Linked DNA regions of Homo sapiens: region 1 is linked to region 2. The links come from fine-mapping of genetic effects on gene expression. A gene starts in region 2. The other region holds a variant in brackets. All regions are shown on one strand. Distances are from middle to middle.

Evidence for each region.
Region 1: its variant is fine-mapped to the expression of NDUFAF2 in aorta (GTEx, PIP 0.95).

Annotation. Positions count from the first base shown.
Region 1 is chr5:60,737,844-60,754,499 of GRCh38, forward strand. It overlaps ELOVL7 (ELOVL fatty acid elongase 7), which reads right to left. Exons shown (of 9, transcript NM_024930.3): 9 at 13,948-16,656. It also overlaps the pseudogene KRT8P31. Among named protein-coding and RNA genes, the nearest start is that of DEPDC1B, 46 kb to the left of the region's middle. The variant C/T (reference allele first, on the strand shown) is at 7,539.
Region 2 is chr5:60,941,895-60,957,629 of GRCh38, forward strand. NDUFAF2 (NADH:ubiquinone oxidoreductase complex assembly factor 2) reads left to right here and starts at 3,311. Exons shown (of 4, transcript NM_174889.5): 1 at 3,311-3,488. The coding sequence starts at 3,362. ERCC8 (ERCC excision repair 8, CSA ubiquitin ligase complex subunit) reads right to left here and starts at 3,176. Exons shown (of 12, transcript NM_000082.4): 1 at 3,038-3,176. The coding sequence starts at 3,114. RefSeq lists an enhancer at 3,947-4,076.

The DNA.
Region 1 (16,656 bases), 200 kb before region 2:
TAGGCCAGGCACAGTGGCTCACACCTATAATGCTCTGGGAGGCTGAGGCAGGAGATCCCGCGAAGCCAAGAGTTCAAGACCAGCCTTGGCAGTACAGCAAGACCTCGTCTCCACCCTCTACTGTCTTTAAACACCTAAACTACATGTTTCTGTCTTATTTTAAAAACAGTTTGTTAATTGTAAAAACAAGAAAAAGACAGACTGTGAAAGATCGATATGTTATTTAATCATCAACTAATTACAGGGAAAAGATTGAAATGTAGCTCTCATAATAGGGAAGAATCCCACCCATCTGTCTACTTTTAAACCATGATAATACTCTGTCCCATTTTCTTATTTCATGTATCACAGTAAAAGTTATTTATCTATACAGCTAAGTTCTTTTTCCATATTAGCTCACATTGCCTTTGATTATAAGTGAGTGTCCATGTTTGCTACCTGGCTCTTTTCAGCCATAAAAACATATCCTGGGGAGGCAGAGCAAGACAGCCAAACAGAAGCCATCGTCCTCCCAACAGGAATACCAAATTTAATAACTATCTACACAAAAAAGCACCTTCATAAGAACAAAAAAGCACCTTCATAAGAACCAAAAATCAGATGAATGGTCACAGTGCTGGTGCTGAAGAGGGTAGAAAAGACAACCGTGAATCACCAACACCACCCCTCCACCATTCCCCAGTAGCAGCCATGTGGTGCAGATAGAGAATCTGTGCACTTTAGGGAGGGAGAACATAGCGATTGTGAAACTTTGCATTGGAACTCAGTGCTGTCAATATTAGGCAGAACTCAGCCAATGTCCACGGCAGAAGCATTCAGACCAGCCCTAGCTAAAGGGGAACCACACATGCCAACAGTCAGAACATGAGTTTCAGCAAGCCTCGCCACTGCAGGTTAAAGTGCTCTAGGGAACTAAATAAACTTGAAGTCTAGGCCACAAGGACTACAACTCCCAGGCAAGTCTGAGTGCTGTGCTAGGTGGGCTCAGAGCCAATGGACTTGGGTAGCATGCAACCTAGTAAGACACTAGCCAGGGCAGTTAGGCAGTTATGCACCACCCCTCTCACAAACTCAGGCACTGTAGCTTACAACTCTTAAAGATGATTTTGTCTTGCAATTGGATACCAGCTCAGCCATATTACAATAGGGCACCGGGCAGAGTTGAGAGGCCCCCCATTCCAGGCCTTAGCTCCCAGATGACATGCCTAGACACACCCTGGGCCAGAAGAGAAACTGCTGCCTTGAAGGAAAAAACCCAGTCCTGGCAGGATTCATGACCTGCTGATGGAAGGCTGCGCCCTGAATAATCAGCAGAGTAACCAAGTAGTACAGGCCATGGGTCTTGGATGAGACTAACATGTGTTAGTGTCACGTGTGACCCATCATATTCCCAGCTGTGATGGCCATAGGGAGAAACTCCTTCTGATTAAGAAAAGGAGATGGAAAAATAAAGGGGACTTTGTCTTGCAGCTTAGGTACTAGCTTGGCCACCCTGGGGTAGAGCACCAAGCAGGGCTGTGGGGTCCCTGATGCCAGGCCTTGGCTCTTGTACAGCATTTCTGGACCTACCCTGGGCCAAAGGGGATGTCATTGCCCTGAAGGATGAGTCCCAGGCCTGGCAGCAGTCACCACAAGCTAACTGAAGAGTCCTTGGGCCTTAAGTGAACATCGTTGGCACCCTGGCAGTACTCCCTGTGGATCTGTGGTGGTGGTGGACACAGGGAGAGATACCTCTGCTTATGGAAAGGGCAGGGAAGAGTGGGAAGAACTTTGTCTTGTGGTTTTGGTACTACCTTAGCCACAGCAGAATAGAGCAGTAGGTTGAGTTCTAAGGTTTCTGACTCCAGGCCCTGGCCTTTAGACAGCATCTCTGGACCTGCTCGGGACCCAGGGGAACTAGCTGCCCTGAAGGGAAGGACACAAGCCTGGCTGGCTTCACCCCTTCTGACTGTAGAGCCCTAGGGGCTTGAGCAAACATAGGTAGTAGCCAGGTAGTAGTCACAGTGGGCCTTGTGCAAGACCTAGGGTTGTGTTGCTTTCAGGTATGGCCCAGTGCAGTCCCAGTCATGGTGGCCACAGGGGTCCATGTGTTACCCCTTTCCCAGCTACAGGCAGCTCAGCACAGGGAAAGAGACTCCATTTGTTTGGGAGAAAGTAAGAGAAGAGAACAAGAGTCTCTACTTGGTAATCCAGAAAATTCTTCCAGATCTTATCCAAGGCCACCAAGGTAGTACCTCTATGAGTCTGCAAGAACCACAGGTGCAGTGACGAAAAACTTAGATCACAACACCCAAGACCTTTCAAATACCTGGAAAGCCTTCCCAAAAAGGATGAGTACAAACAAGCCCAGTCTGTGAAGACTACAATAAATACTTAACTCTTCAATGCTCAGACACTGACAAACATCCACAAACATCAAAACCATCCAGGAAAACATCCCCTCACCAAATAAACTGAATAATACACTGGCGACCAATCCCGGAGAGATAGAGACATGTGACCTTTAGACAGATAATTCAAAATAGCTCTTTGAGGAAACTCAAATAAATTCAAGATAACACAGAAGAGGAATTCATAATCCTATCAGATAAATCTAACAAAGAGATTGAAATAATTTAAAAGAATCAAGCAGAAATACTGGAGTTGAAAAATATAATTGAGACACTGAAGAATGCATCAGAGTCTCTTAATGGCAGAACTGATCAAACAGAAGAAAGAATTACTGACCTTGACAACAAGCTGTTTGAAAACACACATTCACAGGAGACAGAAGAAAAAAGAATAGAAATGAATAAAGCACACCTACAAGATATACACAATAGCGTCAACAGGACAAATTTAAGAGTTATTGGCCTTAAAGAAAAGGTAGAGAGAGGAGTAGAAAATTTAGTCAAAGGAATAATAACAGAGAACTTCCCAAACCTAGAGAAAGATATTAATATTCAAGTACAAAAATATTTGACCCAAAGAAGACTACCTCAAGGCATTTAATAATCAAATTCCCAAAGGTCAAGGATAAAGAAAGGACCCTAAAAGCAACAAAAGGAAAGAAACAAATAACATACAATGGAGCTCCAAAATATCTGGTAGCAGACTCCTCAGTAGAAACCTTACAAGCCAGGAGAGAGTGGCATGACATATTTAAAGTGATGAAGGAAAAAAAAAAAACTTTTATCCTAGAATAGTATATCCAGCAAAAATATCCTTCATGCATGAAGGAGATACAAAGACTTTCCTAGAAAAACAAAAGCCACAGGATTTCACCAATACCAGACCTGTCCTACAATAAATGCTAAAGGGAGTTCATCAATCTTCAAGAAAAGGATGGTAATGAGCAAACAATAAGTCACCTGAAGGCACAAAACTCACTAGTAATAGTAACTACACAGAAAAACACAGAATATTATAATGCTGTAATTGTGATATGTAAAGTACTCATATCTTAAATCGAAAGATGAAAAGATGAACCAATTAAAAATAATAACTACAATAACTTTTCAAGATATACACAGTATAATAAGATATAAATGGAAACAACAAAAAGTTAAAAAGTAGGGAAATGAAGTTAAGTGTAGAATTTTTATTAGTTTTCTTTTTGCTTGTTACTTTGTTTGCTTATGCAATCAGTGCTATCATCAGTTTAAAATAATGGGTTATGGCCGGGCGCAGTGGCTCACGCCAGTTATCCCAGCACTTTGGGAGGCCAAGGCAGGCGGATCACCTGAGGTCAGGAGTTCAAGACCATTCTGGCCAACATGATGAAATCCCATCTTTATTAAAAATACAAAAATTAAGGCTGGGCGCGGTGGCTCACGCCTGTAATCCCAGCACTTTGGGAGGCCGAGGAAGGTGGATCACAATGTCAGGAGTTCAAGACCAGCCTGGCCAATATGGTGAAAGCCTGTCTCTACTAAAACTACAAAAATTAGCCAGGCACAGTGACAGGTGCCTGTAATCCCAGCTACTCAGGAGGCTGAGGCAGGAGAATCGCTTGAACCCAGGCAGCAGAGGTTGCGCCACTGCACTCCAGCCTGGGCAACAGAGTGAGACTTTGTCTCAAAAAAAAAGCTGGTGATGGTGGCAGGCACCTACAATCCCAGCTACTCGGGAGGCTGAGGCAGGAGAATTGCTTGAATCTGGGAAGCAGAGGTTGCAGTGAGCCGAGATCACTCTATTGCACTCCAACCTGGGGGATAAGAGCAACTTTGTCTCAAAAAATAAATAAATAAATAAATAAATAAATAAATAAATAAATAAAACAAAAGGGTTATAAGATAGTATTTGGAAGCCCCGTGGTAGCCTCAAATCTAAAAGTATACAACAGATGCAAAAAAAAAAAAAAAAAAAGAAAAAGAAAGAAATTAAGACATACCACCACAGAAAATAACTTTCACTAATAGGAAGTCAGGAAGGAAGAGAGACTACAAAACAATTAGAAAACAAATAACAAACTGACAGAAGAAAGTCCTTACTTATCAGTAATAACATTGACTGTAAAAGGAATAAACGTTCCAATTAAAAGACATAGAGTGGCTGAATAAATAAAAAAATAATGTCCAACGATCTGTTGCCCACAAGAAATACATTTTGCCTGTAATGACACACACAGACTGAAAATAAAGCGATGAGAAAAGATAATCCATGCAAAGGGAAACCAAAAAAGGGCAGGAGTAGCTATACTTATATCAGACAAAATAGATTTCAAGACAGAATCTATAAGAAGATACAAAGAAGGTCATTATAGAATGATAAAGGAGTCAATTCAGCAAAAGGATATCACAATTGTAAATATATGTGCACTCAACACTGGAGCACCCAGATGTATGAAGCAAATATTATGAGAGCTAAAGAAAGAGATAGACCCCAATACAATATTAGCTGGAGACTTCAACACTCCACTTTCAGGATTGGACAGATCTTCCAAACAGAAAATCAGTGAAGAAATGTTGAACTTAATCTGCCCTACAGAACAAAGGGACCTAATAGATATTTACAGAATATTTCATCCAACGGCTGCAAAATACACATTCTTTTCTTCATCACATGGATCGTTCTCAAGAATAGACCATATGTTATATTACAAAACGCATCTTAAAACATTCGGGAAAAATAACATCAAGCATCTTCTCTGACCACAAACTCACCATTCACCCGGCCCCTCCCATCCCTCCTGGTCCTGCACTCTTAAAGCCGAAACACTGGGCTCACCTTTCACATTTCCCTCAAGCTTAGGCCAGGGTGTTTCTTTCCTTTTCTCATCTGGAATTACCTGTTGGGCACACTCTTCTCCCTCATTTTCTGTCTGGCAAACATCCCCTTATTGTTCATGAGGCAGCTGATATTATCTCCCCTTTAAAGTCTCTGCTTAAGTCCTACCACAGCCCAGATAGAGCTATTTCTCCTTTCTGTCCCTTCATTGTACAGGCTAAAAACTTCTTCCTTCCTTTCTCTCTCTTTCTTTCTTTCTCTTTCTGCAGAGCTAGCTGAGGTTTTATTTTGGACCATAAAAAAAAAAAAGCAATTGAATTGTTTTGTAGCTGGAGACATGGGCATGGGGGATCCCCAGGCAGGAAACTCCCCTGAAGGTGGGCTGAGGGCTAGGGCTGAGCCTCAGGTGGGTCTCCCATTCCCTGTGCTCCCCTGCACAGCCGCCTCCCTCGCGTGCTCTGGGGCAGCCGCAGGACGGACAGGCTGGGAGGGGCTGCCGCCTCCGCTGTTCACTTGAGCAGGACGTCAGAGGACTCGGACACCAGCTTCCCATCGTGGGTCTCAATCTTCTTCACAATCATGGCCCTGATGGAGCAGGTGCGGCTGAAAGCGCAGGAGCCCGCACCAGAGCCAAAACTGGAGCCCAGGCCGTAGCTGAGGCCGGGGCTTGTGAGGCCCCCATAGGTCGAGCTCAGACCACCTGCATAGCCGCTGGTGGTCTTCGTACGGATACTCATGTTCTGCATCCCAGACTCCAGCCGGCTCTCCTCGCCCTCCAGCAGCTGTAGGTGGCGATCTCGATGTCCAGGGCAGCTTGACGTTCATCAGCTCCTGGTACTCACGCAGCTGCCGCCCATGTCCTGCTTGGTCCACTGCAGGGCGGCCTCCAGCTCAGACAGCTTGGCGTTGGCATCCTTATCGGCCAGCTCCCCACGCTACTCGGCATCTCTGATGGCGGCCTCCAGGGAAGCCCTCTGGCCTTTGAGGCCCTCAGTCTCAGCCTGGAGCCGGCTTATGTTCCAGTTCATCTGGGAGATCTCAGTCTTTGTATGCCGCAGGTCATCCCCGTGCTTCCCAGACAGCGTCTGGAGCTCCTCATACTTGATCTGGTACATGCTCTCAACCTCAGCCCAGCTGCGGTTGGCGATCTCCTAGTACTGCGCCTTGACCTCAGCGATGACACTATGTCCAGGGAGCGGCTGTTGTCCATGGACAGCACCACAGACGTGTCCGAGATCTGGGACTGCAGCTCCTGGATCTCCTCTTCATACAGCTGCCTGAGGAAGTTGATCTCCTCAGTCAGCCCTTCCAGAAGAGACTCCAGCTCTACCTTGTCATGTAAGCTTTATCCACATCCTTCTTGATGAGGAAAAATTCATTCTCCATCCCTGTACGCTTATTGATCTCATCCTCATACTTGTTCTTGAAGTCCTCCAGCAGCCCCTGCATGTTGCCAAGTTCCGCCTCCAGCTTCAGCTTCTCCTGGCCCAGAGTTTCCAGCTGCCACCTAAAGTTGTTCATTGATGTAGCTCTCAAACATGTTGTCCATGTTGCTCCGAGCCATCTTCTCCTGCTGCAGGAGGCTCCAGTTGGTCTCCAGCATCTTGTTCTGCTGCTCCAGGAACTGTACCTTGTCTATGAAGGAGGCAAACTTGTTGTTGAGTGTCTTGATCTGGTTCTTCTCCTGGGTGTGGTCTCCTGGATGCTGGAGTCCATCTCCAGTTAAGGGAGTTCAGCAGGCTCTGGTTGACCGTGACAGCGGTGATGCCTTCCATGCCACTGGCCCCATTAAAGCCTCTGCCCAGGCCACCCCGGAAGCTGCTGCTGCCCACTTAAGAGAAGCTCGAGGAGTTGATGCGGGCACCGGGCCCACATGGTGGACACCTTGTAGGACTTCTGGGTCATCCTGATGGACATGGTGGAGGCAGGAGTGGAGGCAGGTGGCCTGAACCAGGCAGAGATTCCAGAAGGAGAGGACAAGCTGCTTCTTGGTATTTATTTATTTATATTTTAAATTCAAGGGAACATGTGCAGGTTTGTTATACAGGTAAACTTGTGCCACGGGGGTGTGTTGCATAGACTGTTTCATCACTCAGGTATTAAGCCTAGACCCTTTCATTATTTTTCCTGATCCTCTCCCTTCTCCCAGACTTCAGCCTTAGACCCCAGTGTCTGTTGTTCCCTCTATATGTCCATGTGTTCTCATCATTTAGCTTTCACTTATAAGTGAGAACATATGTTGTTTGCTAAGGATAATAGCCTCCAGCTCCATCCAGGTTCCTGCAAAGGGCATGATCTTGTTCTTTGTTATGGCTGCATGTATTCCATGG[C/T]GTTATCTGTGCCACACTTTCCTTATTCAGTCTACCATTGGTGGGCATTTAGGTTGATTCCATGTCTTTACTACTGTGAATAGTGCTGGAGTGAACATACGTGTGCACGTGTCTTTATGATAGAATGATTTATATTTCTTTCAGTATATACCCTGTAAAGGGATTGCTGGATCAAATGGTAGTTCTGTTTTTAGCTCTTTGAGGAATCACCACATAGCTTTCTACAGTGGTTGAACTAATTTACACTCCCACCAACAGTGTATAAGCATTCTTTTTCTCTGCAACCTTGCCAGCATCTGTTTTATTTCTTGACTTTTTAATAATAGTCATCTGACTGGTGTGACATGAAATCTCACTGTGATTTTGATTTATATTTCTCTAATGATCAGTGATGTTGAGCTTTTTTTCATGTGCTTTCTGGCTTCATGTATGTCTTCTTCTGAAAAGTGTTCATGTCCTTTGCCCACTTTTTAATGTTTTTTTTCTTATAAATTTGTTTAAGTTCCTTATAGATGCTAGATATCAGACCTTTGTTAGATGCATAGTTTCTAAAAATTTTCTCTCATTCTATAAACTGTCTATTTATGTTCTTGATAGTTTCTTTTGCTGTACAGAAGCTCTTTAATTATATCCCATTTGTCAATTTTTGCTTTTGTTGCAATTGCGTTTGGCATCTTTGTCACGAAATCTTTGCCTGTTCCCATGTCCAGAATGGTATTACGTAGGTTGTCCTTCAGGGTTTTTATAGTTTGGGGGTATACATTTTAGTCTTTAGTCCATCGTATGTGGTATAAGGAAAAGGTCCAGTTTCTACTGTCTCTACTAAAAATACAAAAATTAGCCAGGTATGATGGCAGGTGTCTATAATCCCAGCTACTCAGGAGGCTAAGGCAGGAGAATTGCTTGTACCCGGAAGGCAGAGGTTGCTGTGAGCTGAGATTGCGCCTCTGTACTCCAGCCTGGATGACAGAGCGATACTCCGTCTCAAAACAAACAAACAAGCAAACAAACAAAAACTATTTGTTTAACAGCAGAATATCTGACTTGACTTGTTTGCATGTTTGTTGCCCTCTATCCAAGCGAAAATCTCTGTGGGGATTGGTATTATTTGACTTCATTTTTATATTCTAGCACAGCAGTTGGCATATAGTAGGAGTTTAACAAATTGTTGAATGATTGACTAAACCACTAAAGAGTGAGCAGAGGAAGAGAATTTATAACAATAGCACATACTTATTCAGTGCTTCGTTCATTCATTCATTCATTCAACAACAGTTATTGAACTCCCGTAATATGCCAGCCATTGTTCTAGGCACTTGCAGTGAACAAAATAGACAAAATCATCTACCCTTGAAGAGATTACTTTCTCATGAGGAAGACAGTCAATAAATAACATTAATAGTAACTAAATGCATTGTATAGCATGTTAGAAGGTAATAAGTGCTGTATAGGAAAAAGAAAGATGAGGGTGCAGGCTGCAGTACTGAAAAAGTGAGATTTGAACAAAGGAGGGAATTGAAGGGTTTAGCCAAGCAGTTATTTTGGGAACAGTCCCTTAGGCAGAGAAAAATAAATGAAGAACCCTAAGATGGAAATGCACTTACAATGGTCCAGTGACCAGCAAGGAGGCCAGTGTGGCTGGAGCAGAGGGAACAAAGTGGGGATTGGTAGGCGGTGAGGACAGAGAAGCAATGACAGGGTTTTTACGCTCAGTGAAACCAGAAACCACTGTAGGGTTCGGAATAAAAGAGTTACATGATCTGATTTATATTAAGAGATGACTTTGGCTGCTATTTGGACAAGAAGTTTTAGGGAAGCAAAGGCAGAAACAGAGAGTCACACAGGAAGCTATTCCAGGAATCCCGGCATGAGATGATAAGGGCCCAGGATTGGTCAGATTCTGGTTATACTTTGAGAGGAAGCCAGCAGGATTTCTTGTTGGATTTGGCGTTGAGTGAGACAGAAAGGACCTGAGGATGACTCTGAGGTTTTTAGCCTGAATAACTGGAAGGAAAGCACTGCTCTAAAAGTTTTCCCTGTTTTAACTCATCTAATATCCCACAATAACTGGATAAAGAAGTATTGTTTCCATTTTCAGTTGGGACACTAAGAGACAGAGAAGCTGTCCAGGTTATAGCGCTAGCAAGAAACAGAGTCAGGATTTGACCAGGCAGGCTGGTTCCAGAGCCTGTGCTCCCAACCAGTGCACCACGCTTCCTCTCCATGACAGCATCTAGTAGGATGAAAGGCTTTTTATACAGGGATAATATAATAATATTATAATCTAGGCAAATATTATTATAATATAATCTAGACTATATTATAATCTAGGATAATATTATAATCTAGGAAAAATTATTCGGGTCTGAACAAGGAGGGTTGCCACAAGAATAAAAAGAAAGGCATACTTTCATGGGCAAGATAACCCAAAATGGGCAAAAGACACACTGACCAGAATTTGTGCAACTTTTAAGATAGAAGGCACAAGAGGGCTCCTGTCCGTAATCCCAGTGCTTTGAGAGGCTGAAGTGGGAGAATCGTTTGACGCTAGGCGTTCAAGACCAGCCTGGGCTACATAACAAGATCTCGTCTCTACAAAAGATAAAAAAAATTATCCAGGCATGTTGCCACTCCGGAAGCTGAGGCAGGAAGATTGCTTGAGCCCAGTAGTGTGAGGTTACTGTGAGCTATGAAGGTGCCACTGTGCTCCAGCTGGGGCAACAGAGGAAGACCCATCTCTTATAAAAAAAATAAAAGGAACACAGTAGCTCCGAGTTTACATCTCCACATTCAAATACTCAGATGCTTATATCATTCTTATTTAAGTTGTAAGGACTATGTACAGAGTGTCCTTTTGTGTGGCCTGGGCACTTAGAGATACTTACCTCATATCAAGCTTTCTCCCTTTAGTAACCAGAGTACATCCCAAACTAATTGAATCCTGTAGGTCCTAGAATACAAACAAGGTGCAGCAATGTTTTAATAATGCTGTAGTTTGAATATAGGCAAAAATGTTCATATTTAGATTTGAAGAGTGTTATAGTTTGTAACTTTGTTGAGTTATAGGTACATGTGCAGCCTGACCTGATACTGGCTGTCAATAAAAAGTATGAACATGCCCAGCCAGTGCCAGGAAAGTAAGAGCCCTTTGGCCCTCTCTCTGGGGCAGCCTGGTATAAAAGACATGTTTTGTGTCCTGTTATATTGTGGTTGTATCTGCTAGAAACATCTGGAGGAATTTCTATCTCCACCCCGTCCCCAATCATCATGTATCTTATGCTGCCTGAAACAAAGAGAACCATAACCCTTGCTCTCATTTAATCTAGGGACCTACCTTAAACTCCACACTCAAATCTGAGTCTATTTCTCTGTGCAAGGGGCCACTTTCTTAGTGAAAAAATAAAACGGCACTTACTTTCACCTACAGAACTAGTCAATACAAACCAGAACTGTGTGAATTAAAGATAGGCTTTAACTCTTCTAAAGAGAAAAATAAGTATTCCTGTCTATTTTAGGTAATACTTTGTGTGGCAGACTGTATTTTCCAAGTACAATATTTCTCCCATCCTACATGTACTTACGAGGTAGCTTTTACACTCTTCCCATTGAGGGACATGGTCTGTGTCCTCTCCTCTTGAAAATGGGTGGGCTTTTGTACAGGTGAAGTGATATTCCCTGACTTCTATGGCTAGGTTATAAAAGGCAATACTGCTTCCATTTTGTTCACTGGAATGCTTACTCCTGAAGCCTTTGGTCTGACTTCCCTGAGACTGCCATGCTGTGAGGAAGCTCAAAGTAGCCCAAGGGGAAAGACCACACAGAGAGGACTTGAGACTACACAGAGATCTCCAGCCATCCCCCACTGCCTCAACCTCCTGGTTCCTGGTTAAGCCACAGTCTGACTGCAATTGCGCCAGGGACCCCAAACAATAACCACTCGGCTTCTCAAATCATTGATCCTTCAAAGTGGTAAGAGATGTAGCCTTGATGTAGCTGTAAGTCATCAAATTTAGGGGTGATTTGTTAGTCAATAATAGACAAACTGTAACAGCTTGAGAAACAACAATACTATTTATATAAAGATAACAAAGGCTATACAAATAGTATACTGATGGAAAAATATATGCTAAATATATACACTGAATTATAATATATAGACTATATATTTTAAATTATATTAGTGTATCAATCATTTTGAATGAATCTATTATATATAATACATTATATATAACTTATGTGTATATATATTCATCCAGAAGTAATGATTTAATCATTTGCTGATGCCAGGCACAGTGCTGGCCCTAAATAAGAGTGTTCAATCACTTTTCCATTTAGACACTTGAAGAATTATATGTACTTCTGTGCAAAATAATGGCCCATCATGGTGATGGATTCTCAGTGGGTGAGGTTACATCAGGTGCTTACTCAAACGTCATCTTACCTTCTTTCTTACTAATAGAATCTAATTTTGTTGGAGATGACAATGTGCCCATCTAGAAAATTAGTTCACAGCTTCTCCTGCAGCCAGAAATGGCCATGAGGCAGTTTTGACCATTGAGATGTAAGTGGAAGTTGTTGTGTGGGACTCCTGGGAAAGTCCTTTAGAAGGAAACAGACCTAGACTCTATTGTATTTGGTACCCAAGAAGGCATACAAAGACATCTTCTTCCCTGGTGGTATATGGTATATGCAGATTTTCTCTGTATCCCTGCCCTTCCCCAGAGTACTTAGCTACATGGCATGATGCTTTGGAATGACAGACAATAACTACAGTCTATTACACCCAACTGCTTCCTACAAGAAGGAAATACTGGAAAATGCTGGTGACAGGGAGCCTCGGGCTCCATGGAAGGGATTCTTTTCCAGAGGCTCTCATAACCAGGCTGATCATGTTACTCCTCCATCAAACATCTTCAGTGGGTCCTGGTGAACATTATATTTTGTTTCATCAAAGGTAACTACTTAATTTTAGGATAATATATATTGCAAATCTGTAATACACTTTTCACTTGTCAACAGGTATGCCACTTTTGTTTTTATTAAAATTTGATGTAGGCCTGTCTTTTTAAACTGTACTGTAAATTTTTTAAGGGCAGGGACCACATCCAGTACATTTTAAAGTTTCTCATGACACTTAGATGCAGTAAGCACCCTCAATACTGACTGACTACCAGTGAAAATCATGTCAATTCTGTCATTTTGGTTCCTAACTTAAATAACATCTATACAGAACATTATAATACATACATTGCTTTTTAAAAACTGGACAATTTCAAACATACACAAACGTAGACAGAAGAGTATAATAAACTCTTATTAAGTGAACCCATTACCCAACTTTAACAATTATCAACACCCCCTTTTCTTTTTACTAGAGTATGTTAAAACGAAATCAGACAACCTATCATTTTACATATACATACTTCAGTGTATGTATCTCACATATAAGGACTTTAAAATATATACATCTGCAATACAGTAATAATATCTAATATTAATAGTTTGTCTTTTAAAATTTAGTTCATGTTCAGTTATATCTGATTGTTATAAGAATGTCCTTTTATGATTTGGTTTGTTCAAATCAGGATTCAAATGACATTTGGTTAGTATATCTTAAGTCTTTCATCTACAAAAGTTGCCTTCTCTGGTTTTCTTTTTTTTTTTTTAATGTCATTTATTTATTGAAGAAACCAGGTCATTTGTTCTATGGAATTTCCTACATTTTGGACTTGGCTGATGGTATCCTTTTTGTGTCTTTTAACTCTTATATATTGTATTTCCTGTAACTAGTAGTTTAGATACAGAGGATTTATTAGATTCAAGTTCAAAAATTTTTTTGCCACGAATACCTCAGAGTATTATAGTGTATTATGAGACAAAACATCTGGTTGTCCCACTTTGAATGATATTAAGATTGATCACTGGGTTCAGTCATATCAGCACAAGCCATCCCCATCAACCTTTCATCTAATTGTTTTAGCAACCAGTGATCATTAGCTAGTCCCATTTATTAGAGACAGTGGGGATGGCAAAATATTCTTTTTTGTTAATTCTTTCCACTTAAAAAACCTTGCCTACTAACATACCACCAATTTTGAAATTCTGTACAACCTAAACACATAACTCAAATTCAAATTCCTTCATAGAGTCTTCCCTGTCTGCTAAGTGGCAGAACTGTCACTCATCTGGCACCTATCATCTACTGCCCTGTCACATAATTTCATCTGCCAGTTGGTAAGCTCCAGGAGATCCCAATTATGTTCTAAGTATCTTTGTATCCCAAAGATGAACACAGCACGTATACAAGAAATATGTAAAATAACTTTGATTGGTGAGTATTCAAATTAAAAGTCACCAACCCATGCAAATACATGCAGCTAGATTCCAAAATGAAAAATATACACACGTATACATGCAATACCACAAATTTATTATAATACACAGGGAAAAACAAACTCAAACTTTGACAACATCCACAGAATGTTCCAGTCTTTAAAAAGTTAGCAGAAATAAAGGGTAATGGAAAGAATATAATCTCGTAATTTTATACTTAAGGCTGTAAATGGCAAAGTCCCATAGATATTTAAAAATCTATATTTGTATTTATTTATAATATAGATATAGGCCCTCAAGGATTCATAGAGATTTATGTAATAAACTAGATTTTGGAACTATTTATTTTGTTGTTGTTGTTGCTTGTTAGGTAAGCAAACCCAAACAAATTAAGTCCTGAAAAGTGGGATGAAATCCCAAAGGAACTCTATGTGACCACACAGAACTCTTTTAATAAATATGGCCCATACAAATTCCATATCCAGTGAAAATCATTTTGATCCACAATCATGTTGATGTTTCTATGGAGGATACTTCTAGCAGCTGTGATTTCTTTTGTAGCATTCTGGCTCTCCACTTCTATTCATATAATTGAGTATGTGTTTTATTACATGTTAGCTTATAGGCAAGTTAAACATTTTAAAGACTACAGGGAGGTTAGGAGAGGTTGTATGATGAAGGTCGGAAAGTATGCAAGAAATAAACTCTCCTGTTTCATCTCTTTTATTTTTGCCTCATTTTGGTCTCTATACTACTTGGGTTCTTTGGAAATGGTGTGATTTCTAACAGCACCTAGCATACCTTCTCATTTTAGCACAGGTTAGATATGAAGAGCCAAACCTGGAAAACAGTTAAGGAGTCCTGAGACCTTTCCAGTGGAATAAATTAGAGCAGCAGTTTCATTTAGCTGTGCTCTTTTGTCCTTCATTCTTTATTTTCTAAAAATATAAAATTATGGCCGGGCACAGTGGCTCACCCCTGTAATCCCAGAACTTTGGGAGGCCGAGGTGGGAGGATCACCTGAGGTCAGGAGCTCGAGACCAGCCTGGCCAACCCTGTCTCTACTAAAAATACAAAAATTAGCTGAGCATGGTGGCGGGCACCTGTAATCCCAGCTACTTGGGAGGCTGAGACAGGAGAATCACTTGAACCTGGGAGGCAGAGGTTGCAGTGAACCGAGATTGTGCCATTGCACTCTAGCCTGGGCAACAAGAGTAAAACTCTGCTTCAGAAAAAAAAATAATAAATTATATATATATATGTAATTACTCCCATTTATCAACCTTTACCTTCTCATGCTGTAATCAAGTAAAATCACAAAAGATCACTTAAAGGCAAATAACCTTATGAATCTGGTAAGTGTAAACATAAAAATACTTACTGTACACAGAGTACAATAAGTATCTCTGTGTGTTCAAAATTAACTGGGGCTTTAAGTACTAATTGTTTAAAGTCCTACAAACATAAACAGTGCTTCAAAATTGAGTATAAATAAAAGAAGAAAAAAAATAGGGAAAAATTCACAAATGTCCAAATATTATTTCATGGACAAAACTCTACTGACTAATAGTTTTGATTCTCTGACAAGAAAATGTAAAAATAACAGAAAGAAACTAGCAATTTTAAAGAAACAAAGTGTATGCCAAACGAATTTCAGTCCTTCATTACATGGTTTATAGGTCTGGAAACAGAAATCCAGGTTGTTAATTAATTCATAATTCCAGAAAATGTTTTATTGTTCAGTGTATCTATAACATTAATTATATAATATATTACTATTATGTAGTCTGTCTGTCTCTCTCTCAAAGTAGAACAGCCCTTGCTTACATAATCAATTTTCCCCTGGATATTCTCTGTGCCACAATTTGCCTCTAGTTGCTTCACAGCCACTCTAACTCATATCTGGAAACTGTGTACAATGGGTAATATTATTTATGATTTAAGGGTAGTACCTGTAGTGTGCTAATAATATGAACATTTAAGTATCTAACCTATATATTTCACCAAGATAATAATTTAAACCATGACAATGTAAGAAAGTGATGTGATACTATAACAGACAACAGGTTTTTCCCACTGAACTACACAATACTTTTTTCATTGACAAATTCACCTCTTTCCAGAGATATACAAAGTTAATTGTAAAACAGTAATAGCAAAGTATTCATTAACCCATTAAAACAAATCACCTTGTTTTGAAAATAATCAACTGAATGAAACTTGGTATCAAGTGTACTAACCCAAAGGATTGCTACTTTGAAACAGTTTGTACAACAAATGGGTTGTGAGGAAGTCTTATCAGCAAAACTGGTGATGGCTACTGAAAAGATCCATTGAAAATTATCATTAATGATTTTAAATGACAAGTTATCAAAAACTCACTCAATTTTCACCTGTGCTAGCTTGCTAAAATGGGAGTTAACTCTAGAGCAAATATAGTATCTTCTGAATACAGTCAATAAATGACAAAGCCAGGGCCTACAGGTGGTTTCCAGACTTTCCAGACCCAGCAGAAGGAATCTATTTTATCACATGGATCTCCGTCTGTGCTCAAAATACCTAATGATATTTTTCATCTTTATTGGACTTCTTTGAAGAGTACTGTATTGCTTCATATCTTTTTTTCACTGCAACAAAATGTTTTAAACAAAACCTTTGGATTAGGTTTAAAAGCAGCTAAAAAAACAAAAACAAAAACAAAAACAAATTCTGGCTGCTGTAGGCTCTAATTATCAGAAGACTGTTATCTGGAAGCTTCGGGCTCTCAAATATCAGACATCCCAAT
Region 2 (15,735 bases):
GATGGTTGGAAAAAATTATAATGTCTGATAGAGTATATAATGTATGTAAATATAAAATATAAGACAACAATATATATATGGTGCAGGGGAAAGGGTGATAAGGTTTCTATATGCCAAATGAAGCAGTAAAACAATGAAATGATCCGAAGTAGACAACGAAAAGTAAGTATTTTATAATTCCTAGAGCAGCCACTAAAGAATTATACAAAAAGATATAGTCAAAACCATAGTATATAAAATAGAATACTAAATAATGTTCAAACAGTCAAATGAAAGCAGGAAAGGGGAAACATAAATATGGAGCAGCTAGCACTCTCACCTATTAGTGGTGGGACTGGAAAATGCTTTTGGAAAACTGTCAGTTTCTTAAAAAGTAAAGGATTTATCTAGTAGCTCCACTGTTATGCATTAACTTCAGAGAAATAAAAGCATATGTTCATACAATGACTCATACATGAATTTTCAGAGCAGCTGTAAATGTATTAGTCCTGAACTGGAAACAACTCAGATGTCCATCGACAAGTGACTAGATAAACTGTGGTATATCTGCACAGTGGGATACTCCACAGCAAAAAAAAGGAATTGATACATGCAATAACATGGAGAAATTTCAAAATAATGTAATTATGCTGAGTGAAAGAAGCCAGACAAAAAAGATTCCATTTATATAAAATACTAGATATGCAAACTAATCTATAGTGACCTAAAGCAGATTAGTAGTTTCTAGAGAAGGAAGAGGGTAAAGCAGAGAAAGAAGGGAGACAGGGATTATAAATGACCGTCAAAAATTTTTTAGGGTTATGGATGTTCTCTTGATTATGGTAATGGTTTCAAAAGTAAATATATGTCAAAATTCATCAAATTGTATATTCTCATTTAATGTGCAGGGTATTGCATGTCAATTATACCTCAATAAAGTTGTAAAATGTTTTTTTAGAGGGTGTAAACTGTGAACACTGCATATCAGTGTTCATCCTTTTGCTCTTACATGATGACAAGGAAGAACAGTAGACATCTCCTATGAATAAAATGGAACTATATAATTGTTTAAGCAAAAACATCACTTAATGATGGAAATATTTTTAAAAAAATTTTAGGCTGTGTGGTAGCTCGCACATATAATCCCGGCACTTTAGGAGGCAAAGGCAGGAGGATCACTTCAGCCCAGGAGTTCAAGACCAGAATGGGAAACATAGGGAGACCCCATCTCTACGAAAAATTTAAAAATTAGCTAGGTGTGTGGGCACATGTCTGTGGTCCCAGCTACTTAGGAGGATGAGATGGGAGGATCATTTGAGCCTGGAAAGTCGAGGCTGCAGTGAGCTGTAACTGCACCACTGCATTCCAGCCTGGGTGACAGAGCAAGACCCTGCCTCAAAAAAAAAATATTTTTTTAATTTTTAAATACTTTATTTGTCTTAAACGTATAAGCAATCCTCACTTGGCACAGTCTGATATGAATTTCAGTTACCACAGTTTATTAACCGTGAGAAATAGCATAAAAGTTTGCTACTAGCTTTTCAGTTCACAAATCATTACATAAATAACATATGAATCAAAATTGACCAATTTGCAATTTTACTTCTTTCAAAGTCTATGGGTGATTGGTCACTGTGCATCTGTTATTCAGTTCACACACAGGCTGCAAAGCATGGAGGTTTGTTATTAATATTTCTGTGCCCTTGAGATAAACCCACATGGAATTTTACAGATTAAAAGAGGAAATTGGCCAAAAGAATGAAAGTGCACTAAAGAAGAGTGATAATACTAGAAGTGAAACTTGCATTAAACATAAATGGAGCAAATGAAAAAAAAGCTGCCTGTGGGAACATGCTGATTGTGGCAACAATGACACTGCCGCCATTTGAGACATTCTAGATATGCAGACTGAGGAAATCAGTGAAGGTGAACTTATAGACATAAATGAGGAAAAGTGATTGTGATGAAAGGCTGATGATGTGTCAGAGGAAGTGACACTGGCAAAAAAAACACATTAAAGGAACTCTCAGAGATATTTCACAACATTGAAAACGTAATGGATAAAATGTTGGAAACTAATATTTAAATTTCTCCAGAACGCAGAACTCATAAGCAACTGTGTTCTCCAAGTAAATATCTTCACAGGTTCCTCAATTAATGTGGGCAAAATTAAAAGTACAACTTGCTTCTTCCCTTTGGAAAACCCTCTCTCAGAGTATATTACCAACATTCAACTTCTTATACAAGGCATAGATCTGGGAATCATTATTCATTCTTCTCTTTTTGTCATTCACGTATCCACTCAATTTCCATGGCCTGTTGATTCTATTTCTCAGACGTTGTTCAAATCTCTCCACTATCTTTATTCTACTTGGCAACTCTGTGGCCCAGGCTTCCAACAACTCTCTCCCGGACAAGTGTAATCACAACAGTTACCTAACTTGGCTCCCACTCTTGTTCTCAGTTGCAACCCATTCTCCAAGCAGAAAACAAAATGCAATAGCTGTTACCTTATTCTCATCTTCACACCTCTACTCAAGTACACAAGGCTCTTCCTCATCTAGTTTCTGTCTACTTCATCTCTTGTCAATGGTCCCTACCCCAATTCTCCGCTCTAGTCATTCTGAACTTTGTTCAATTCCTGGCCTGTGTCCTCTGCCTTTAATAGGCTGCCTGGCACACTGTAGGAATTCACTAAATATGCAGACTGAATGAATGAACGAGTCCGTGGAGGGCAGTTATTCTTTGGAGTAACTTAAGAGAGAAGGAATACAGTACAACGAAGTATTCTTATTTAGGTTTATAGTGTCTTCACCTGAGCCCGCGGGGGAACCCCCCCCCCACCCCCGGGGAACCCCCCCCACCCCCGCCGCCCCCCGCCTGCAAGTTGTTACCAGTAAATAAAAGGGATCCTATTTTAGCAAGCCACACAGCATTAGAGGGCAAATAATAGTTTGGTGGCAGGAGAGCGATGAGACGGGAAAGTGTGGGGCAAAGCTTACAGTCATTGGTCCAGATTCTAACTGGCCTGTTAGCCAAAAAGTAAGGTTTTCTTTACCTCCGTGTTGACTCTGCTCTCCGAAGGCGAAGAGGGTCCTCCAAACCCGTTTGGCGTGCGGACAAAAACCCCAGCATATCGTGTCCTCACACCGGCTGGAGCACTGGACGTCGCCATGACAGAGCTCAGGGGCGGGACTGGAACAGCAGAGTCTCCCATTGGTCAGTCGGTGATATATCCGGCCAATGGTGAGCGCCGTTACTAGAAGGGCTCCAGGATGGAGGCCGACCTGACTTCTCCGCCTCGGTGGGCTGGGTCGGCGGCTGGAGCATTACCCCTACTGCGGGTCCCGCTGCTGGCAGCGCTGGAAACTGGGTGGACGGCATGGGTTGGTCTCAGGATTTGTTCCGCGCCTTGTGGAGATCGCTGTCAAGGGAAGTGAAGGAGCACGTGGGCACGGACCAATTCGGGAACAAATACTACTACATCCCGCAGTACAAGAACTGGAGAGGTGAGGTGGCGGCGTGGGCAGCGATTGCGTGGTCAGTGATTGCGAGGTCAGTAAAGGAGGGAAAAGTGAGAGCCCCTAGTCAACTAACGCATCATGCGACACTTAGGGTGTCACCGGAGAGAATTTCCCGAGTTCGTTCTCCCCTGTCGACCCCTTCACTCTGGCATCGGAGCCCTACCCGGCCCGGCTCTGGGCGCCTTGGCCCGGCCTCGTGCGTCCGCGGTCCCTACTACCCAGCGCCTTCCCCCGGCGTGCCCCGGGCTGCTTGCGCTGTTAAGGCGCACCACCACTTTCCTCCCAGCCACGCCTGTAGAGGAGCCTCAGTTTTAGCCCTGGACTGGCGACGGAGGCAGGGAAAAGTCCACGGAAATCTTTCACCAAAGGGGCTAGAAGGGCCAGGGGAGGGGTTTTTCGTACGCTGTTCCCCGCCTTGTGACCCAGAGCTGAGTGGTGTAATTGAAGAGGAGTATCTTCAGCGCCTCGGCTGTCTTCTTTCTTGGTGTTTACCCTTTTCGGTGGCACCCTGGCTCCGGCGCTGGCCCCATGCGCCTTCCTTACTACCAAGACTTGTCAGAAGTAGGTCCATATCCCCACAAGGCTCGCTGATTCCTTTCTCGGGAGTTGACATTCCAAGACCCCGTTGAGCTCAATTTAAGAAACGTGGCAATAATCATGGTGTTACTGTGTAGGATTCGTGCCAAGTAGTTGAGCGGGTTGTTTGGGGAGTAAGGAGGCGTTGCTGTCCATTGAAATCACACTGTGTAGCCGCCGTCGTAACCTCTTCTGTGTTGTTCCATCGCCGCATGCAGAAAATGTCAGGTTTTGGGCGAAGAGGCGTGGGTTAGAATCTCAGCTTTGACACCTGATAGCTCGGGAATCACGGAAAAAGTACTTGTCCTCTCCAAGTCTCAACATCCTCACTTGAAAGTTAGAGATAATATAAGATCAGCAATGTTGAGAAGCACTAAGACCTTTCCAAGATTATGTGCCATTCATTTCCCACACATATAAAATGTATTCTGTGATTTATCACTCAATTAATTTATTTTTGCCTGGCCTTTTTCTGTAACTTATTTTAATATTTAGACTTGTTTCCCTAATGAGCTCCTCTGTCAGGCAGGGAATATGTCTCACAAAAAAAGAAAAAAGCCTGCAAAGAACATAGCATGGTGTTAAGTATTTCTTGACAGGTTGCAAGCAGAGAGATGTTTCTTTTCCATAAGTTGTCAGTAAAATTAAAAATATGCAAACTGTCAGACTGAGTTTTTTTAAATTGAAATATAATTTACATACAGTAACATTCACCCTTTATGGTGTACAGTTTTATTGTTTTTGACAAATGAGTAGAGTAACCTCACTGGATTCAAGTAATAGAATAATTCCATCACCATCAGAATTTCCTCCAACTCCTTAGTAGTTCATTCCCACACCCTTTGGCAACTACTGATGTGTTTTATGGGCCTATAGTTTTGTCTTTTCTAGAATATCATATAAATGGAATTATACAGGATTTAGACTTTTGAGTCTGGCTTGCTTCACATAGCATAATGTAGCTGAGATTCATCCATGTGTCAGTAGTTGTTCCTTTTTATTGCTCAGTAGTATTCCATTGTATGGGTTTGCCAGTTTATCTGTTCACAAGCTGAAGGACATTAGGATGTTTCCAGTTTCTGTGATTGTGACAAAAGCTCTACAAACATTCCCATACAGGATTTGTGTGAACGTAAGTTTTCATATCTCTTGGGTAAATATCTAGTAGTGGGATTACTAAGTTGTGTGATCAATGTGTGTTTAACTTTATGAGAAACTACCAAACTGTTTTTCAAAGTGGCTGTACCATTTTGTATTCCTGCCAGCAATGCATTAAAATTCTAGTTGTTTCCACACCCTCACCAGCACTTAGTATTATCTGATTTTTGGGTGTGTTTTTATTTTTATTTTAGCCATTTTGATAGGTATATAGTGGTATCTCATTGTGATTTTAAGTTTCATTTTCCTAATGCCTGAGGATGTTGACAGTCTTTTCATGTGCTTATTTACTATCTACAGATCTTCGGTGAAGTATTGTTCAAACCTTTTGCCCATTAAAAAATCCATTTATGGCTGGGTCCGGTGGCTCATGCCTGTAATCCCACCACTTTGGGAGGCCGAGGTGGGTGGATCACCTGAGATCAGGAGTTCCAGACCAGCCTGGCCAACATGGTGAAACCCCATCTCTACTAAAAATACAAAAATTAGCTGGGCATGGTGGCACGCGCCTGTAATCCCAGCTAGTCGGGAGGCTAAGGCAGGAAAATCACTTGAACCTGGGAGGCGGATGTTGCAGTGAGCCGAGATCACACCACTGCACTCCAGCCTGGGTGACAGAGTGAGACTCCACCTCAAAAAAAAAAAAAAAAAACAAGCCCAAAAAACAACAAACAAATATATTTATACCAGTTTTTGTATCATTCATTTATATAGAGATACAATACCATTAAAGTTTCAAATTAACAGTCATGTCTATTCTACAATAACATGAATATTTTATTTTTACATATTCTCACTAATTTGTATATTTTCTTACATAATTGTAATTGCATTTTGAGAGTTTTATTGAAGTATAATTGACAAAAAAAATTGCCCATGCTTAAAATGTATAATTTGGTAAGTTTTGACATATGTATATATCTGTGAAACCATCAACACAGTCAAGAAAATTAACATATTCAATATCCACAACAATTTGTTGTGCTCCTTTCTAGTCTTGCCTTATGCTTCTGCTTCCATGGATAGGCACTCATCTGATTTCTGACACTATACATTAGTTTGTATTTTTTATAATTTTTATTTAGTTATTTTTATTTGTTTATTTTGAGATGGAGTCTCGCCCTGTCGCCCAGGCTGGAGTGCAGTGGCGCTATCTCGGCTTACTGCAACCTCTGCCTCCCAGGTTCAAGTGATTCTCCTGCGTCAGCCTCCCAAGTAACTGAGATGTGTGCCACCCTGCCCAGTTAACTTTTTGTATCTTTAGTAGAGACGGGGTTTCACCATGTTGGTTAGGCTGGTCTTGAACTCCTGGCTTTGTGATCTGCCTGCCTCGGCCTCCCAAAGTGCTGGGATTACAGATGTGAGACAGTGCGCCTGGCTAGAATTTTATTTAAGTGGAAGCATACAGCACATATTCTGCTTTTTTTTTTTTTTGTTTTTTAGGTTCTTCACTCAGCATAATTATTTTGAGATTCATCCATGTTTTTGTGTTTATCAGTAGTTTATTTCTTTTTAATGCTGAGTAATATTCCATTGTATGTATATACCATAATTTGTTTATCCATTCACCTGTTCATAGATATTTGGGTTGTTTCTAGTTAGGGGTTATTACAAATAAATTATGAACATTCATGTGTAAGTCTTTGTATGGACTTATGTTTTTATTTCTCTTGATGTAATATTTAGAAATGGAATGGCTGAGTCAACTTGTTAGGTGTATGTTTAACTTCTTAAGAAACTGCCTAAGTGGTGGTACCGTTTTACCTTCCCACCAGGAGTGTATGAGATTTCCAGTTGTCCTATATCCTTATCAACACTTGGTATGGTCAGTCTTTTTAATTTTAGCTCTTCTAGTAGGTGTGTTGTGGTATCTCATTTTTTTTCTTTAGTTTTCTGTTTGCTATTAGTTGGTTTTTTTAGATTCTATTTTTAAAATACAGTAAAATTAACTTTTAAAATTGGTGTATAGTTCTATAAATTTGAACACATGTGATTCATGTAACCAACACCAAAATCAGGATACAGAACAGTTCCGTCACCCTGAATAACTCCCTCATGCTACCTTTTTGTAGTTACAATCTCTCCTCATCCCTAACCTCAGCAACCACTGATTTGTTCTCTGCCATTATACTTTTTTCCATTTGAGACTGTCCCACATGTATACTTATACCATATGTAACCTTTTGAACCTGGCTTCTTCTATTCAGCATAATGCCTTTGAGATTCATTACGTATATCAGTAGTTTGCTCCTTTTTACTGCTGATTAGTATTCCATGTTAATGGATGTACCAGTTTGTTCATTTACTCATTAAAGGGCATTTGAGTTTAGTTACTTGCAGTTTTTGGTGATTATGAATACAGCTGCAAGAAACATTCACATATGGGTTTCGTGTGAACATAAGTTTTCATTTTCCATGAGTACATACCTAAGAGTGTGAGTGCTTGGCCATAGCAGCTCCAGCTTACTCTGTAAAACGGAAATAACAGTACCTACTTAGCCTCACAAAGTATTTTTGCTACTCAAGAGAGACAAATTGGATAACGTAGCATTTAAGAGAATGGGATTTAATGTCGAAATCAGTTTGACTTAATTCACAGAGACCTTTTACTTGGTCATTTTTAAAAATTTATCACTGATTTGTAGTTTTCAGCATAGAGATCATGATATGTTTTGTTAAATTTATTATAAAGTATATTATATTGTATTGTTATTATAAATGATGCTTTAAAAAACGTAATTTCTAATTCTTTGTTACTATTATATTGAAGTACAATAGATTTTTCCATGTTGAGCATGTATCTTGCAACCTGTTTTACTCACCTACTAGTTCTTGAATGAAGCCTTTTGCAGATCCTTTGGACATTCTCTGTAGGTAATTATATCAACTGTGGATAGAGACAGTTTTGTTTTTATCCTTTCTAACTTATTTGCATTCTATTTCCTTCTCTTGCCTGGCTGCACTAGATGAGCCTCCAGTATAATGTTGAATAAGAGTGGTGAGCATAGGTATCTTTTTCTTGTTCCATATCTTAGAAGAAAAACATTTAATCTTTCATTTTTTTTTTCCCCAAAGGTGGAATTTCGCTCTCGTTGCCCAGGCTGGAGTGCAATAGCGTGATCTTGGCTCATTGCAACCTCCACCTCCTGGTTTCAAGCGATTTTTCTGCCTCAGCCTCCTGAGTATCTGGGATTACAGGCATGTGCCACTATGCCTGGCTAATTTTTTATTTTTAGGAGAGATGGGGTTCGCCATGTTGGACAGGCTGGTCTCGAACTCCTGACCTCAGATGATCTGCCCACCTTGGCCTCCTAAAGTGCTGGGATTACAGGCATGAGCCACCACGCCTGGCCACTACTCTTTCATTGTTAAGTGTGGTGTTAGCTATAATTTTTTAGATACCTTTTATTAAATTAACAAAGTTCCCTGTCTGTACCTCGTTTGCTGAGCGCTTTCTCTTATGAATCGATGTTGAATTTTGTCAATTTTGTCACATGCTTGCTTGCTGGGTTTTTTTTTTTTTTTTGGTTCTGTTGGAATGATCATGTGGTGAATTTATACTGATTGACTTTTAAAAATTAATAGACTTTATTTTTTAGAGCAATTTTAGGTTTACAGAAAAATTGAATGGAAACTACTCAGATATTCCTGCTCCCCCAATGCAGTTTCTCCCATTGTTAATATCTTGCATTAATGTGTCCTCACTTCCTCCCTTCCTGCTACCAAACCCCTAGCAACCACTGATCTTTTTACTGTCTCTGTAGTTTTGCCTTTTCCAGAATGTCATGTAGTTGCTGTCATATAGTATGTGATCTTTTCAGACTGGCTTCTTTCACTTAGTAATATGCACTTAAGTTTCCTCCATGTTTTTTTGTGGCATAATAGCTCCTTTCTTTTTATTTATTTATTTATTTTTGAGACAGAGTCTCACTCTGTCGCCCAGGCTGGAGTGCAGTAGTGCGATATTGGCTCGGTGCAACCTCTGCCTCTCAGGTTCAAGTGATTCTCCTGCCTCAGCCTCTCGAGTAGCTGGGATTACAGGTGCCCACCACCATGCCCAGCTAATTTTTGTAATTTTAGTAAGAGACAGGGTTTCGCCATATTGGCCAGGATGGTTTTGAACTCCTTACCTCAGATGATCTGCCTGCCTCAGCGTCCCAAAGTGCTGGGATTACAGGAGTAAACCAGATGCCTGGCCATCTACTTTCTTTTTATTGCTAAATAATATTCTGTTGTATGGTTAGAACCACTGTTTATTCGTTTGCATATTGAAGGACATCTTGGTTGCTTCCAAGTTTTGGCGATTATGAATAAAGCTGCTATAAATATTCCTGTGCAGTTTTTTGAGTGGACATAAGCTTTTAACTCATTTGGCATTGATTGATTGTTGAATGTCTTGAATATTGCATTTGTCAGGTAAACTCCACTTGGTCATGATGCATTATCCTTTTTATATATTATTGGATTGATGTGCTTTCATTTTATTGAAGAATTTTGTTTTCTGTTCTTCAGGATCTTAATTTCTTCCTTTTAATGTGTTTTCTAGGTTTGTTTTTAGGTTAATGCTGGCCTTATAAAGTGAGTTAAATTTTGTTTCCTTCTTTTGAATTTTCTGGAAGCGTTTGTGAAGAATTTGTATTACTTATTTCTTACATGTTGGATATAAATTGCCTGTGAAGCCATCTGGTCCTGGAGTTTTCCTTGTTGGAAGGCTGGAATTAAAAATTCAAAGATAATAAATTTTTAACCTACAAATTTAATATCTTTGGCAGGTATAAGACTACTCAGGCTATCTATTTTGTCTTAGGTGAGTTTTGGTAGTTTTTATCTTTTGAGTAGTTTGCCCTTTTTATCTAGTATGTTGAATTTACAGTCATAAAGTTGTAATACCTCTTCATTATCTTTTTAATGTTTGTACAATTTGTAGTGATATCCTCTCTTTCCTGAATTGATAATTTGTGGCTATTGTTTTCTTGGCCTATCTGATGAGTGGTTTGTTAATTTTATTGATCATTTTAGAGAATTAGCTTTGAGTTTCACTGATTTTTCTCTGTAAGTTTTTTCCATTGGTTTCAGAACTTATCGCTTTCTCTTATATCGTCATCGTTTTCTTCTGCTTTCAATTGGTTTTATATGTTCTTCTAGTTTCTTAAGGTGGCCACTGAGATCATAATTTGATCTGTTTATTTTTTAATATACATTTTTAATGTTAAAATTTCTTGTAGGCACTGTTTTGGCCACATTTCACAAATTTTTATCTTAAAATTTTCATGTAACGAATATATTTTCTTATTTATTTTTTCCTATATGACCTATGTATTTATTTAGAAGTATGTTCTTTACAAATATTTGGAGATTTTCTAGATGGAGATTTTCATTGACTTCTAGTTTAATTCTATTATATTCAGAGAACATATTTTATATGATTTCAGTTATTTTAAATGTATTGTAAATTGTTTTATGGCCTAGAGTATGGTGCAATTTGGTAAATCTTCTGTTTGTGCTTGAGAAAAATGTATTATCTATTTTGCTATTTGGGGTTGAATGTTCTGTAAATGTCAGTTAGCCCAAGCTGGTTGATAGAGTTGTTCAAGCTTTGTATATTCACACTGATTTTTTTTGTACTTATTCTATCAATTATTGAAAAAAGTATGTTACAGTCTCTGAATACAAGTTTACATTTGTCTTTTACTCTTTCCAGTTCTATCAGTTTTTGCTTCATGTATTTTCAATACCTATTGTTAGGTCCTTACACATTTATAATTGAAAGATAATAATACAAATTACCCAAAATAAAACACAGAGAGAAAAAAGACCAGAAAAAAAAGAGCAATTAGCAAGCTGTGGGATACCCCCAAGTGGCCTAATATATGTAATTGGATACCATGAGGGGTAAAGGTCATTTTGCAGGTCAAAAATATTTGAAGAAATAATGGCCAAAAATATTCCAAATTTGATGAAAACTATAAACCCACAGACCCCAAATCATCAACAAATTCCAAAAACAAAAAGTGTAGAAAACCACACCAAGGCATATTATTATCAAATTGCTCAAAGCCATTGATAAAGAGAAAATCTTTATAGAGCTAGAGAAAAAGATACATTACTTACAGAGGAAGAAAGACGAAAATGAGTTCAGGGTTTTTTTTAAAACAAACAATATAAGCTGGAAGACAGTGGAACAATATCTTTAAAGTACCAAAAGAGAAAGTCTGCCAACCTATAATTTTGTACACAACAAAAATACCTTGTTAAAACAAAGGCAAATGAAGGTTTTTTCAGACATACTGTACCTGAAAGAATTCATTACACAGAGACCATAATTCCCTTTCCTCTTCCCTCTACTGGATATCTTATTCCCTGGATTCTGGGCCTTTCACCACAGTTTTGTAGCATATATGCTTCAGTAGCCTCCTGAGAAGAGGTTCAAGGCGGATAAAGTTTTTGAGTCTTTGAATGTCTGAAAAGATTTTTATTCTGTCCTCATTTGGTTGATGTATTTGTTGGGTGTAGTTTCTACTGCAGTCATAGTGAGTAAATGTCTAGAGAAAAGCAAGCAGTAAATTCTATACGAGCTTAAAAGGAGTAGCCTATGAATTGAGGAAGAGTATATGCATAATGTAGGCTTTGGTAAATGTTTTTAATGTAACCTAATGCTATGGTTTACTGTATTTATGAATATATATTTTAAAATGCATGATTACATTGAATAACAGTGTTTTGGCTTTAATAGTAAAGCTTTTTTTCAAATTTAGTCGGTATAAAATTATTTGAGATAGTCACACATACTTTGTATGTGCCCTATTGACAACAACCAAAGGAATTTCTCCTTTCCATGCAAATGAGGAACACATAGACACAGATGTAAATGTTCTAAATCATTATTTCTAGTGATATAAGTTAGGATTGTTTTACTGGAAGATTGTGGTGCTTTTTGAGTGTTGGCTGTGTATTTTAGACAAAGTAGCTGGTAACTAGGACTAGTTCCAGCTTTACAGGTCACCATGATACCCATATCCATGTCTCTGGTCCCAAGTCATTAGCTGTAAGATAGCCAAAGACCTATGATGTGGCTAGGTGTGAGAATTCTGCCCCATATAGGCATTCTGTATAGGTTGGTAACAGACCAAACATGGTCAAATTTTTTTCTGTTGAAATTTGAACTCATAGATATATAGAGAGAGGAAAATATGAGAATAATTAGGGATCAGTAGATGTCCATTTCTAAGAAGTTAGGGTGGCAAGCATGTTGAAAGGTTCCTATTAGAGCACAATAGGTATTGTTGTGTCCTAAATCACATTCCAGTTGTCTCTATTTTGCAAATGTTGAGTTTTTCGTCTTTCTTCCTGTATCTTTACAGTATTCCCTGGTTACCTGAGATAACTTGAGCGTAACTGTTCTTTGAAATCTGAGACTAGCTAACATATATACTATGTACTAGATTTTAGAAAATTTTAGGTATCTGAAAATACAACTTTTTCCTTTCATGTGTTAATTTTGTCTCTTAGAAATTCTTCCTGTTAAATATCAAGGAACTCATGACCTCAAGTGATCTGCCCGCCTCAGCCTCCCAAAGTGCTAGGATTACAGGCATGAGCCACCGTGCTCTGCTGTCCTTTTTTTTTTTTTTAAATAGTAGCCATCCTAACAAGTATAAGGTGATAGCTTATTGTGGTTTTAACTTGATTTCCTTGTTGGCTAGTGATATTGAGAACCTTTTCATATACTTGTTGGCTATTTTGTATGTTTTCTTTGGAGAAATGCCTGTTAGTTCCTTTGCCCATTTTAAAATCAATTTATTTGGTTTTTTGCTATTAAGTCATAGAAGTCACTGATACATTTTGGTTTTTAATCATTTATGAGATATGGTTTGCAAATATTTGTCCTATTCCATAGGTTGCCTTTGTATCCTTTGCTTTGCAGAAGTATTTTGGTTTGACGTAATCAGACTTATCTATTTTTGCTTTTGTTGTTTTGTGCTTTTGGTGTCATATCCAAGAAATCATTGCCAAAGCCAATGTCAAGAAGCTTTTTCCCTGTTTTCTTCTAAGAGTTTTGTAGTTTAAGGACTTACATTGAAATCTTTAATTCATATTGAGTTGATTTTTATATACAGTGTGAGATAAGCGTCCAATTTCATTCCTCTGCATGTGGATATCTAGTTTTCCCAATACCATTTATTTGAAGAGATTATCTTTTCTTCACTGTGTGTTCTTGGCATAATTGTCAAAACTCACTTGTCCTCATGTGTGGGTTTATTACTAGGTTCTGTCTTCTGTTCCAATAGTTTATATGTCTGGTTTTATACTGGTACCATACTGTTTTGATTACTGTAGCTTTTAAACGTATTTTGAAATCAGACAGTGTGATGCGTCCAGATTTGTTCTTCCTGCTTAAAATTGTTTTGGCTACTCAGTGTCTTCTTGTAATTCCATATGAATTTTAGGATTGTTGTTTCTATTTCTGGAAAAAAAAAGTCATTGGAGTTTTGTTAGAGATTGTGTTGAATCTGTAGATTGCTTTGGGTAGTATGAGCACTTTAACAATATTAATTCTTCCAGTCCATGAACATATCAGATGTCATTGCATTTATTCCTGTCTGCTTGAAAGCATTTCTTTCATCCATGTTTTATAGTTTTCAGTGAATAAGTCTTTCACTTCCTTAGTTTGTTGCTAAATATTTTACTTTATTGATGTTATTGTAAGTAGGTTGTTTTCTTAATTTCCTTTTCAGATAATTTGTTGATAGTACCTAGACATGCAATAGATTTTTGTATGTTGACTTTGTTTTTTTTTTTTTGAGATAGAGTCTCGCTCTGTCACTCAGGCTGGAGGGCACTGGCGCGATCTCAGCTCACTGCAACCTCTGCCCCTGGGGCCTAAGTGATCCTCCTAAGTACTGGGACTACAGATATGTGCCACCATGCCCAGCTAATTTTTGTATTTTTTGTAGAGATGAGATTTCACCATGTTGCCCAGGCTGGTTTTAAACTCCTGGGCTCAAGTGATCCACCTGCCTCGGCCTCCCAAAGTGTTGGGATTATAGGCATGAGCCACCATGCCTGGCCTCTATGTTGACTTTGTATCCTGCAACTTTGCTGAATTCATTCATTAGTCTGAACAGCTTTTTTTGTGTGTGGAATCTTTGGGGATTTCTATATGTAAGGTCATCATCTGTGGCTTCTTCCGCTCTAATTTGGATGCCATTTATTTGTTTTTCTTGCCTAGTTGCTCTTGCTAGAACTTCTGTTTTTGAATAGGAGTGGTGAGAGTAGGCATCCTTGTCTCATTCCTAACCTTAGAGGAAAAGCTGTCTGTTTTTCACTCTTGAATATAATATTAACTGTGGATTTGTCATATATGGCCTTCATTATGTTGAGGTGCATCCCTTCTATACCTGACACTAAGAATTTTTATCTTAAAAAGGACTGAATTTTGTTAAATGCGTTTCCTGCATCTATTGAGATGGTCATACAGTTTTTGTCCTTCATTTTGTTGATTTGGTATATCACATTGATTTGTATATGTTATCTCAATTTTTTGAAGTGTTACTTATACGTTTATAAAAGTTGTGAGCCAAGAAAAATTTGTGCTGAGGTTTTTATGAAAACATTTACTGCCAAACTATATTTTCTATACTTTCTGTATTTCTGTGTGAGTATATTTAGACACACGTATATTTGGATTATCAGTGTGCCAAACATTATTTATAATATCATCTCCTGAATTTTATATTTTATTTTTTTTAGTTAAAAAGAAAATACTGCCTTTTGAATATGAAGTTCTCAAACACTTTTGAGAAACCAGATCAAAAGAGGTATTAACCAAACTTTGAGAAACCGGATCAAAAGAGGTATTAACCAATTTTAAAGTTGATAATTTAAAATTGAGGTTTGCTAATCAGAAATAGAATTTTGCTTATAACTGAAGGGTGTTTTATACCTTTTGTGCTTCCTTTTTAAGAATATTAGTTGGATTTTACCTTTTGTTCTAACTTGAGAATCACTGTTTTATTTATTTTTAATTATTGAATTAAAATATAGTAGAGAGAATGAGAAAGCAAACCTCCACATACCTGAAGCTTACTTTTTACAGTTATACTTGTGGTTAAATATAATTTTCTTCCTAACCCCCAGTTATCTTTCCTATTTTATTTTGAAGCAGGTAACAAACATCTTGTCAATTTACCTATAAACATTTCAGTATGTATCTTTTAAACACAAGCACTCCTGTTTTTAAATGTAACAATAACACCATCATCATATATAGAAATAAATCCCTTAATATCATCAGATATCCAGCCATTCACATTTTCTTGGTTATCGTATAATGTTATAATGTTCTTGTTTATTGGCTGATCTGTTTACTTTTTTTTTTTTTAACAGTTTATGTCTCTATAGATTCTCCCTTTATCTTTTTAAAAGCTGTTCTTCTGATTCCTGATTACCCTCCTTAGATGTCTTTTGCAGCATAGCCCTCAATTTACTTGAAATTAGC